Linked DNA regions of Homo sapiens. The protein of the gene in region 3 purifies or fractionates together with the protein of the main gene of each other region. This does not show direct contact. Each region holds a gene or a part of one and is shown on either strand. Other genes may lie near its edges.

Region 1 (3,727 bases), on a different chromosome or scaffold from region 3:
GGCATGTTAAAGTATACAGTACACCATTTTCATACATGTACAACATTGGTGGATGAAGAATGTCTCTTAGCAGTAATACTGGATGTAGCCTCTGGTTTTACCAGCTGCAAACTCTAGGACTATTATATAAGTAAAAATCTCTCTTGTGATACTGGAAAGTGATTAGAATGTGCAAACTGATATAGTAGCTTTCATCCGCCTCTTAAAGGGTACCACCACAGGAAAGTCCATTTAAGATGTTGGTAGGTTTAACAAAGTTGGAATGCTGGCACTGTTGAATTGGGCAACAGTTCTTCAGACCTGTCAAAAGGAAAAAAATTAATTAAAAACATGGGCTAGAAAAAGTAAAGACCCAAAAGCAAACAGTTAAGAAAACAGTCTTAAAAGTGTTAGAAATGAATATAATCTAGGCTCTTGTTCTAGGCATTACATTAGTGGCAACATACCACAATTCACGGCAGACCTTTTCATTCCAAAAAGATGAAGTCTATTCTGCTGCCCTCTTGAAAGTCAGTTAAATGAAAATCTTAGGAACAGAAAGGGAAAGTACCTTTGTGCAAATTTTTGTGCATTACCTTCCAAGGATTAAAAAGGAAAAAAATCACATTAAAATTGTTAGTCAAGTCAACCTTATTAGAATTAGGATTGAAAAGTCAGATAGCAATATTAACAAACTGGGTGATCCTGTGTTTACACAATCGTAATGTACTCCTAGAATTAGATCATAAGTATAGAATGCACATCTAACCAAGGTTTCTAGTATCAGATAATCAAGTTCTTCCTCACTCTTTCAATGAAAGTGGCTAAAAAGCTCGTTCAGAGCAGACAAATAGAATTTATTTCATGATGGTGTTTTACAGATTTACAATCACGTTATATAATTTCTAATTCCATATTTAAACATTCTATTAAGACTGATGTCAGAAAAAGGTGGTATTACACTAAAATCACATGTAATTAAAGATTTTAAAAAGTAAACTTAGAATTGTTAAATATGTACTTTGAATAGTTTTCTGCATACATGCCTCGGCTAAAAAAATGTTCCCTATTATATTTTTCTGGTGATCAGACTTGTTACAAGCTCCAGAAGAGTTGTTAATACATATGTGGCTGTTGAAATAATTTTCACAAATGCCTAGAACTTTAGGTCCTCATTCTGAGTCTGAATGAGGTTTGCAATCAAGTTTTCTAAATCCTGGCAGACTGTTGCAAATTAAAAAGGACAGATGGAAGTGTGTGAGCTCAAGCACATGTGTGCTGCTAAGAATGGGCATGTGGTCAGGAATTATAGGATATTAGAATGAGAGGATATACCACTAAACAGAAAGCCCTAGATGGAAGGCAGGAATAAAAACTCTGAAAAGATGCAGAATCAAAGTGCTATGGCAGCACTGAGTCAATTAACATAGGAAGAAATAAGAGTCAGGAATGTCAAAGGTTCTTAAGAATAAATTAACAGTTTAACAATAAACAGTTTAATGACAGCTGAAGAGGAAACCATTATCATTGGCAAACAGCAGCAGCTAATAGTTGAGTGTTAACTATGTGCCAGGTACCGATGCAAGATCTGTGCAGCAAACCCCATGGTACACCTTTACCTATGTAACAAACCTGCACATCCTGCACATGTATCCTGGAACTTAAAAGTTGAAGGAAAAAAAAAAAAGTGGCACATGATGAACATGTCAGGGGTGTGTGTGTGTGTGTGACTGGCACATGATGAACATGTCAGGGGTGTGTGTGTGTGTGTGTGTTTTAAATTAGGGACGGTTGGCTGGGAGCGGTGGCTCACGCGCACGCGCGCACGTGTGTGTGTGTGTGTGTGTGTGTGTGTGTGTGTGTGTGTGTGTGTGTTTTAAATTAGGGACGGGGTTGGCTGGGAGTGGTGGCTCACGCCTGTAATCTCAGCACTTTGGGAGGCCGAGGTGGGCAGATCACGAGGTCAAGAGATTGAGACCATCCTGGCCAACAATGGTGAAACACCATCTCTACTAAAAATACAAAAAAACTAGCCGGGCGTGGTGGCACGTGCCTGTAATCCCAGCTACTCGGGAGGCTGAGGCAGAAGCATTGCTTGAACCTGGGAGGCGGAGGTTGCAGGGAGCTGATATTGCGCCACTGCACTCCAGCCTGGGTGACAGAGTGAAACTCCATCTCAAAAAAAGAATACTTATGTGAAATACTTTACTCATGATGATAAGTAAATAATTAATAAGATAGCATACTAACTCATGGATATCTTATAAAAATAAACCATTTATTTTTCAGAACCAACAAAAAGAAGTCTATACTTGCTTTCATGACAGAGTGCCCTTAATAAGGTTGAGTGATTAAAAGTTAGAGGAAAGATAAGTGAACATACCTGGCTCAGAGCTACAATGCATTTAGTATATTAAAGCAGCTGACATGATGACTTTTTGCGAGCCTTCCCAGGCACTGGAGTTTTTCTGTTAATTTGCCGCACTAGGTCATAAAAGATCTGCAAATACAATAATTTGTTTTAATTTACAGGAGGAACACCTATCCCCCCCAATGAAAAAAGTAAATTGAAAAAACAGAAATTTCCATGGATATAAATTAATGCCCAGAATTGTTCAGCTAAGGAATGAGAATAAAATCAGGTGTTATAACTGCCAAGCTCAAATTTTTGGGGAGTGTTAATATTGTGCTCCTTAAAATACTTAGTTGAAGGAGCTGCAGAGATCTTAACTTAGTTCAATTAGAACATTTACCATCACACAAAGAAAAAATCCTTTTAAAAACTGTAAGTTTTTGCTCTACAACATGACTTGGAGCCTTTCAAGAACCATGCATACTTTTCGGAATTTTACTCTATTTTTCATATAACATCCTTCATATACCTGAAGTCTTAATCTGTCTTCCCTATCCATGTATTTTCTGTCCAGTCTTCCTTTTTCATGGTAAATATCAATGTACAAGTATTTAATAGAGACTGAAATAGTATTGTTTATTTACTACATAGATACATTTAACATGAGGGTTTTTTTTTTTTGCCTGTAACATCAACATATTACCCTGAGTACATATTAACTTGGGGTTAAGACATTTTCCATTCATCTTCAATGTTGTACTTCAAATGAAGACCCATTTTAAGTATATTTGACCATACCTCATTAACATTTATTTTTGATTTTGCAGAAGATTCTAAGAATGCACAGTTGTTCCATTGTCTTGCTAGATTTTGACCTTGTTCCTTCCCTACAACTCTTTCATCTTCCAAGTCACACTTATTACCAACAAGAATCATTGGAACCTAAAAATACATTTGTGAGAGTAAAAATAAATAAGTAAATATGCTATATGAATTCAAATCAAAAGAATTCTAAGAGTCAAATCTAAGAATTACTTTTCATATGCCACAAAAAATATTAAATAATGTATAATAAAATTTACAGCCTTAACAATTTAATCTGTAACATAAACATAAGTATTAACTTTGATGTCAATTATCTCCACTGCCTTCTCTTTTCATGGAGATGCAAACGATAACTCCAAAGGGAAGAAAAGAGAGAAAGAAAACTCTCATATGTTAAGTAAAATGAACACAACCTAGTCAATGTAGACATAAATAAGACACTTTTACATAAACTTTTGAGAAAACAAGCTATGATCCTGTTATGAGAGATGGGGGGAAAAAACCTTAAAATTTTATCATAATGGACGGAAGGCTCCCAAAATAGAATTTTTAGTTTCTCATAGTCTTGTA
Region 2 (2,268 bases), on a different chromosome or scaffold from region 3:
TTGTCCTGGAGGCGGTGCCTGGGCGGGGAAGGGAAAAGCCCCTCAGGGGAGCCCCCACTCCCAGCCCAGCAGGGAAGAGGGTCTCCTCTGGGGAGAGGGGGGAGGTGTGGAAGCCAGGACGGCACCCCAGGTGAGAGCATCACATCTGCAGACGCCTCAGGGAGCATCCGTCCCAGACGGGGAGGCTGTGGTAAAGGCAAGAGACCAGGCCAGGGAGAAAGCCACAGAGGAGGCGCCAGTCAGGGCCCAGGCTTCCGGCTTCAAGGCCAGCCCTGCTGTCCCCAGGGGAGGTGAGCAGGAGCTCTGGGTCCAAGTCCCATCTTGGCCAAGGGACCCATAATCCATAATGCGTTTCCCACCTGCCCTAGGCCTCGGCCTCCCGCTGGTCTCCTGAGGGGTGTGATGGGATCACCACTGCTCGTGGCACCGGAGGCTCGGGGACAGCAGGCCCCGGATGTGCACACACACTTGCCTGCTCTTGAGTCGCTTGCTGATGAGGTACATGGCCGCTGCACCCATGTACTTGGCCACGGCACCCTCCACGGCTCCGAACTTGCCCTCGCGGACAATGTAGTCAAAGGACGCCAGAGCCTCGGTGGGCGTGCGGTACACATTGGGGGAGATCAGGTGCACCAGCCAGTCGTCCGCCCACTGCCGCCACTTCATCTCCTCCCTGCGGGCACGGGAGGGACTTCCTAAGCCAGGACCCGGGCTGTGTTGGGAGCAGGCTGCATTCTCTAGAACATACCCACTGCACGGGCGGGAAGCTGAAGCCTGAGCAGGAAGGTCTTTTTTTTTTTTTTGAGACAAAGTCTCGCTCTGTCACCCAGGCTGGAGTGCAATGGCACCATCTCAGCTCACTGCATCCTCCGCCTCCTGGGTTCAAGCGATTCTCCTGCTTCAGCCTCCTTAGTAGCTGGGATTATAGGTGTGTGCCTCCACACCTAGCTAATTTTTGCATTTTTATAGAGATGGGGTTTTGCCATGTTGGCCAGGCTGGTCTTGAACTCCTGACCTCAGGTGATCTGCCTGCCTCGGCCTCCCAACAGGCTGGGATTACAGGAGTGAGCCACCACGCCCGGCTGCAGGAAGGTCTCTACTGAAATCCGGCATGGCCCGGCCCCAGCCCCGCTGGTCTCCCATGCTGCTCCCTGCTCACGCCATCTTGCTCAGCTTGGTCCTACTCTACAGAAGACCCCTGCGGTCACCACCTTCCCCCGCCAGCCCCAGCCCCACTCACGTCCTGGCCTCCTTCCCACCATACACTTGCTGGGCCTCCTTCTCGTTGAGCATGAGCCAGTACTTATTGCCGAACTCGGTCACCTCCTTGCCCTGCTCGTTCACAGCCTTCATGGCTGGGTAGTAGGTGATGATCTCTTCCAGGGGCTGCCTTCGGAGAGAGCCACAATATCACCCCAACTCCTTCCCCCTCCGTCCCCTGTGGCCGACCAACCCCGCTGCCCCAGCCTCAGAGTGGAGCCAGGACCAACAAAGGCTCTCCGGACTCTTGCAGTAAGAGGGATTTGGAGTAGATGCCAGGGCTACCTCCCCAAGAGAGGGAGGTGTGGGGAGGACAAAGTAGGGGGCTTGGAGGAGGACGGCCACGGGCTACTCTGGAAAATCATTTTTTTTTTTTTTTGAGACGGAGTCTCGCTCTGTCACCCAGGCTGGAGTGCAGTGGCACGATCTTGGCTCACCGCAACCCTCTGCCTCCCGGGTTCAAGCGATTCTCCTGCCTCAGCCTCCTGAGTAGCTGGGACTACAGGCACTCGCCACTATGCCTGGCTAATTTTTGTATTTTTAGTAGAGATGGAGCTTCGCCATGTTGGCCAGGCTGGTCTGGAACTCCTGACCTCAGGTGATCTGCCTGCCTCGGCCTCCCAAAGTGCTGGGATTACAGGTGCGAGCCACTCTGTACTCTGGAAATCTAAGCAGCAGCTCCACGTGCTCCCAGGAGGGAACTCAGGGGAGGCCTCCCTGGAGGAAGCCACCAAAAGCAATGGCCACCTGGTCTCCGAGGGGCTCCTTACCCCGACACCAGGTAGGTCTTGAGGGCGCTGATGATGACAGAGGAGTCATTTAGTTGTTGCTGGAAGAGAAAAGGGTGGTTTAATCAGAGGTTGCAACCCAGCCGCTGGGAGTCACCAGGGGCTCTTTAACAAGACACTCTGGGCATTGTTTATCCATTCCTGGGGACATGCCCGGAGTCCTCCCCGCCCTGCCCTCAGGGCACCCATCCTAAGTAGGGAGACGTGGTTGTGGCCAATG
Region 3 (4,272 bases):
TCTTGACATTGAAATTTTTTTTAGCTTACTAGCTTAAGACATTTGGTGAATAGTGCATTTAAAGTATATAATTTTGTGTAGCTTAAAACGATACACAACCAAAAAACTGCAAGAAAACAAAGTGCAATGCTTGGAGAGAGGTTTAGTGAAAAGAATAAGGTGTGTGTTGGGGAGCAGGGACATAGGGTAGGGTTTTTTTTCTTGGATTTGACATTGTTGGGGCAAGTGGAAGAATAATCAACAATGTCTGAATCTTCACATTAACCAGGCATACACAAGCATCCAATGGCTGCTTGAACCTGAGTGTCTTTGCTGTGAATAAAACTGCCTGTGTTCTGAAGTCATGGACTTGAAAGGGACCTTAGTGATCGTCACATCCTATGCTCCACTTTATAGATGAAGAAACTGAGACCAGAAAAACGCAGTGATTCCCTGCTAGTAGGGCTGGGTCTAGAATTCAGGTCTGCTGACTCCCAGACGGTGTGGGAAGGGGCATTCGTTCCTTTAAAAATAAGCACTGCTGCTTTAATAACATCAGCACCTGTTGTTCCAGCTTCTGCAAGAGAGAAGCTATTAATTTCTCCTTCATCAAAGCTGAATTTCTGGTCTGTCTGAACCTTGTTTTCTTCCTGACTGCAGCTGTCTAAACCACTAAGGCCACATGTTGGACGGAGGCACTTTCCTGCTGGAATCCGATAAATCACCACACCCAAATATAGAAAGAAAAAGGGACACAGATCATCCACACCGTGGCCGAATGTGTGACATCTTTGCTGAACTCTCTCCGTTCCACCTTGTGGTGGAGGCCTCCAGTCCACCAAACACAGCCCTAGGCGTGTGAACCCTGCCACAAACATCGGTGCTCTTCCTGCACAGGGCCTGGGACCAACCGTGGCCAGGACATCAGCTGCTGGAAGCCGAGAGAGTTCATCTGAGTGGCGATTTTATGATCTGCAGAGTGGAAAGTAATCATAATCCCTTGAGAAGTTTGCAGAATCGAACCGAATGTTGAATGCCAAAGATCTTCACAAAGCAAGTTGAGTTTCTTCCGTTATTATTGTTATTTGTGTTAGCGAGGCCTGGATTGCTTAGGTTGGGTTTCCTCCCGCGCCTATTCCAGCAGGCAGACCCCGCCCTTGGCCACACCTTTCTCCTTGCCCGGGGTAGGAAAGTGAGGGGCTGCCCGGCGCCCGCGGGCGTCCCTGAGGTCGGGGGTGGGGGGGAGCCGCGCAGCGCGCATGCGCGCCGGGGAGCCGCCGGCCTCTATAAGAGCGCGGCTCAGCGCGGCAGCGAGCGGAGTCGGAGCTGGTCTGGCGCCGGGCGGGGCGAGGCGAGGCTGTGGGCGGCTGCTGCGCTCGGCTTCTCCCGTAGCCCGGAGGAAAGAAACTTCCGTGGGAGGCTTCCATCGGTGCGCACACCTCCCGAGGGCGAGGCAGCGACCGGGAGAGGGAGAGCCGGCCGGAGGCTGCCGGGCTCCTGTGGGACCGCGCTGCAGCCGGGGAGGCGGAGAAGGGGAACCGGGGCGAGCCGCCCGCCTGGATCCGCGCCCAGCAGCAGCCGCGGCCGCCGCCAGCTGGGCAGGCTCCCGGGACTGCGGCTGGGGGCGCGCAGGACCCTCGCCTGCGTCCTGGACGTTCCCGGGGTCAGGAGCGCTCCCTCGGCGACGTGCTGGGAAGATTGGCCGTCGGCCCCGCCGAGTGGAGCGTCGGGGCTGCACCCCCGTGGGCTGCCCGGGCGGCCCGGCCGGAGCCATGCGGACCAAGTTCGGGGCAGAGGAGGCTGAGCGCGGCCGGCTGCGTCACTTGCTGCCCAGAGCCTTGCGTGCACTGCCCGCCTTCGCCCCTTCTACCCGCCCGAGGAGGGAATAAAGGAGGGGAGACGGGCCCTGATTCGCGCGCGGGACCCTGAGGCTTAAACCCTGCGCAGAGCCCTGGCTCCAGGTCCGCGGCGGCGCGCCCAGCGGTCATTCGGCTCGAGTGAGCATCCCTTCGGGGATGCTCAGGGAGGGTCCGGTTGCCAGTGAAACCTCCAGAGGCTTCCGGACGACAGCCCCGGGGGCCTTCTGACTGCATCCCGAGATTTCCATCAGCGAGTGCAACTCATAAGGCAGTCCCTAAGGGGACCGGGCCACCGGCTGAGGACGGGGATGGCTTAGGAGCTCCTGGACCTAGGGCCCGGCGTCGTCGCCTCCTGGGCGTCGCGGCAGAGGGGAGTGGCCCGCGCGGAAAGCGCCGCGGGACAGTCAGTGACGAGGCCCGGGGGTCGCCGGGGCCACGACTTCTCGGAGACCGTCCTGCGCTCTCTGGAGACGCGCTGTCCGCGCCCAGGGTGGTGCCATGTGGGGCGCTCGCCGCTCGTCCGTCTCCTCATCCTGGAACGCCGCTTCGCTCCTGCAGCTGCTGCTGGCTGCGCTGCTGGCGGCGGGGGCGAGGGCCAGCGGCGAGTACTGCCACGGCTGGCTGGACGCGCAGGGCGTCTGGCGCATCGGCTTCCAGTGTCCCGAGCGCTTCGACGGCGGCGACGCCACCATCTGCTGCGGCAGCTGCGCGTTGCGCTACTGCTGCTCCAGCGCCGAGGCGCGCCTGGACCAGGGCGGCTGCGACAATGACCGCCAGCAGGGCGCTGGCGAGCCTGGCCGGGCGGACAAAGACGGCCCCGACGGCTCGGCAGGTAGGGCGGCCTGCGCCCAGCGCGAAAGGGAGGACGGTTGGCGTTGCCTGGACGTCAGGGACCTGGGAGTTTGAAGGGGGGAAATTCAGGAAAGGGCCTAGGACCAGGAGGCGGAGTCTGCCTTCTGGCTTATTATTTGGTCGGTGTGGGTCCCTAATTCACCCTCACGGGCCTCAGTTTCTCCATCTGTCAGCCAAAGGGTGGCTTAGAGTTAATTTTCCGAACAAAATCACACTCCTAAGGCAGTGTGGGCCACAGACAGCCCCCATATTCCTTCTGACCAGGGTCCTCCGGGCCCCTCTGGCGTCTCCTGTCTCCATAGGGCTTCATGTCTTAGGGGTACCCAAGGAGACGGCGAGGGTGCGCCCCCACCCGTGAGGGCCTGGCAGCGGTGCTCCCCTGAAGGCTCCCCGAAAGGAAGGCAGCTCCTCAGGGCTTTCCCGGGGCTGCTGCCCCGTGCCAGACGCCGCGGATTCCCATCTTCTCCACGCGGCGGCCCCTCTCCCCTGCAGCGGCCCGCCTGTGGGGCTTCTGGACTGTTTTCCTTACCACGTCAGACTTAGTAGGTGTAACATCGGAGCAGTGCCCAGCCTTGCTCTTTGTGGCTTTGATTTTTTTTTTCTTTCAAATTGCCAAAGCCAGAGTTGGAAAGTAAACCCGTGAAAGAATTTGGTAGGTTGCACTTCACTCTTCAGAAACCTTCCGGAATGCCTCCCTGGGGTGTCTACACCAGTCACTCCGTGTGTGTGTGTGTGTGTGTGTGTGTGTGTGTGTGTGTTATTTATTTCGGGGGAGGGGAGGTGTAGAGGTAAAATGGCAAACGTGTCCCCGAGGGGGCGGCTCCTCCTCTTTGTGGGCCCGTTGTGTTTACCTGGGAGGCTTTTCGCTAGCATCCTGAGCCTGGGTTCGGGCTGCTTGAGCTTTGGCACAGCGTAGTTTGTGTTTATAGAGCTGCCTCCCAGGACCTCGTGAGAGACAGCTCTTTTCAGTGCCGTTCCCTTTCGCAGTCAAGCATTTTATTAGCATGCTACTCCTATTGTTCTGCTGTCTTGAATCTGAAGAGAGCGTAATTCCAGAACCAGCGCAGTCTTAAAACGCAAGCTCAGTCTCGCAGACTGTGTGGCCATGGAAGAAAGCCCAGAGAAGGGAGCCAGACCCCGAACTGCTACAGTGAGATGTCTGCTAGATTGGGCTCATTAATGGTCTCCAAAAAGTTGGGATGGCTTTGGATTAGTCGGGACTTCTCAGGACGAGACTTCTCATGACGCCCTGTGTTGTGCATGGATGCCTTCTTCATGCTACTTTTAAACGTTTTTTTCCTAAAAATTGTATTTCTTTCACTTTTCTTCTGCAGTGAAGGGCAACATGCCTAATTAAGCCTGCCGGGGGGCTTATAGTAGCGTTACATTCCTTATCCCTGTGTAGTTATTTACATTTCCAATTAAAAATCCTGGAAAGAGAACACTTATTTCTCCCCAAAACTCATTATGTGGACTGAGGCTGGTTTCAGCTAGTTTCTGCTATGATTGGGGTACATTTTTTTTCCTGCTTTACTACTATTAATTTATTTTTTGATAACATATTTAGGGCTGGTGTCTTAAT

The links.
Region 1: the proteins of SHISA2 (region 3) and RAP1B purify together in Homo sapiens (affinity purification with mass spectrometry; one large-scale study listed by BioGRID and IntAct). This does not show direct contact.
Region 2: the proteins of SHISA2 (region 3) and PTGES2 purify together in Homo sapiens (affinity purification with mass spectrometry; 3 studies listed by BioGRID and IntAct, with this or other methods). This does not show direct contact.

Annotation. Positions count from the first base shown.
Region 1 is NC_000012.12:68,655,853-68,659,579, reverse strand, and holds part of RAP1B (ras-related protein Rap-1b isoform 1 precursor), read right to left. Parts: intron 3,275-3,727; coding exon 3,131-3,274; intron 2,480-3,130; coding exon 2,393-2,479; 3' UTR 2,363-2,392; intron 301-2,362; 3' UTR 1-300. UniProt on the Homo sapiens protein: GTP-binding protein that possesses intrinsic GTPase activity. Contributes to the polarizing activity of KRIT1 and CDH5 in the establishment and maintenance of correct endothelial cell polarity and vascular lumen.
Region 2 is NC_000009.12:128,122,462-128,124,729, forward strand, and holds part of PTGES2 (prostaglandin E synthase 2), read right to left. Parts: intron 2,090-2,268; coding exon 2,031-2,089; intron 1,391-2,030; coding exon 1,241-1,390; intron 674-1,240; coding exon 473-673; intron 186-472; coding exon of another isoform or gene 140-185; exon of another isoform or gene 25-139; intron 19-24; coding exon 1-18. UniProt on the Homo sapiens protein: Isomerase that catalyzes the conversion of PGH2 into the more stable prostaglandin E2 (PGE2) (in vitro). The biological function and the GSH-dependent property of PTGES2 is still under debate.
Region 3 is NC_000013.11:26,049,040-26,053,311, reverse strand, and holds the start of SHISA2 (protein shisa-2 homolog precursor), read left to right. Parts: upstream 1-1,295; 5' UTR 1,296-2,336; coding exon 2,337-2,670; intron 2,671-4,272. UniProt on the Homo sapiens protein: Plays an essential role in the maturation of presomitic mesoderm cells by individual attenuation of both FGF and WNT signaling.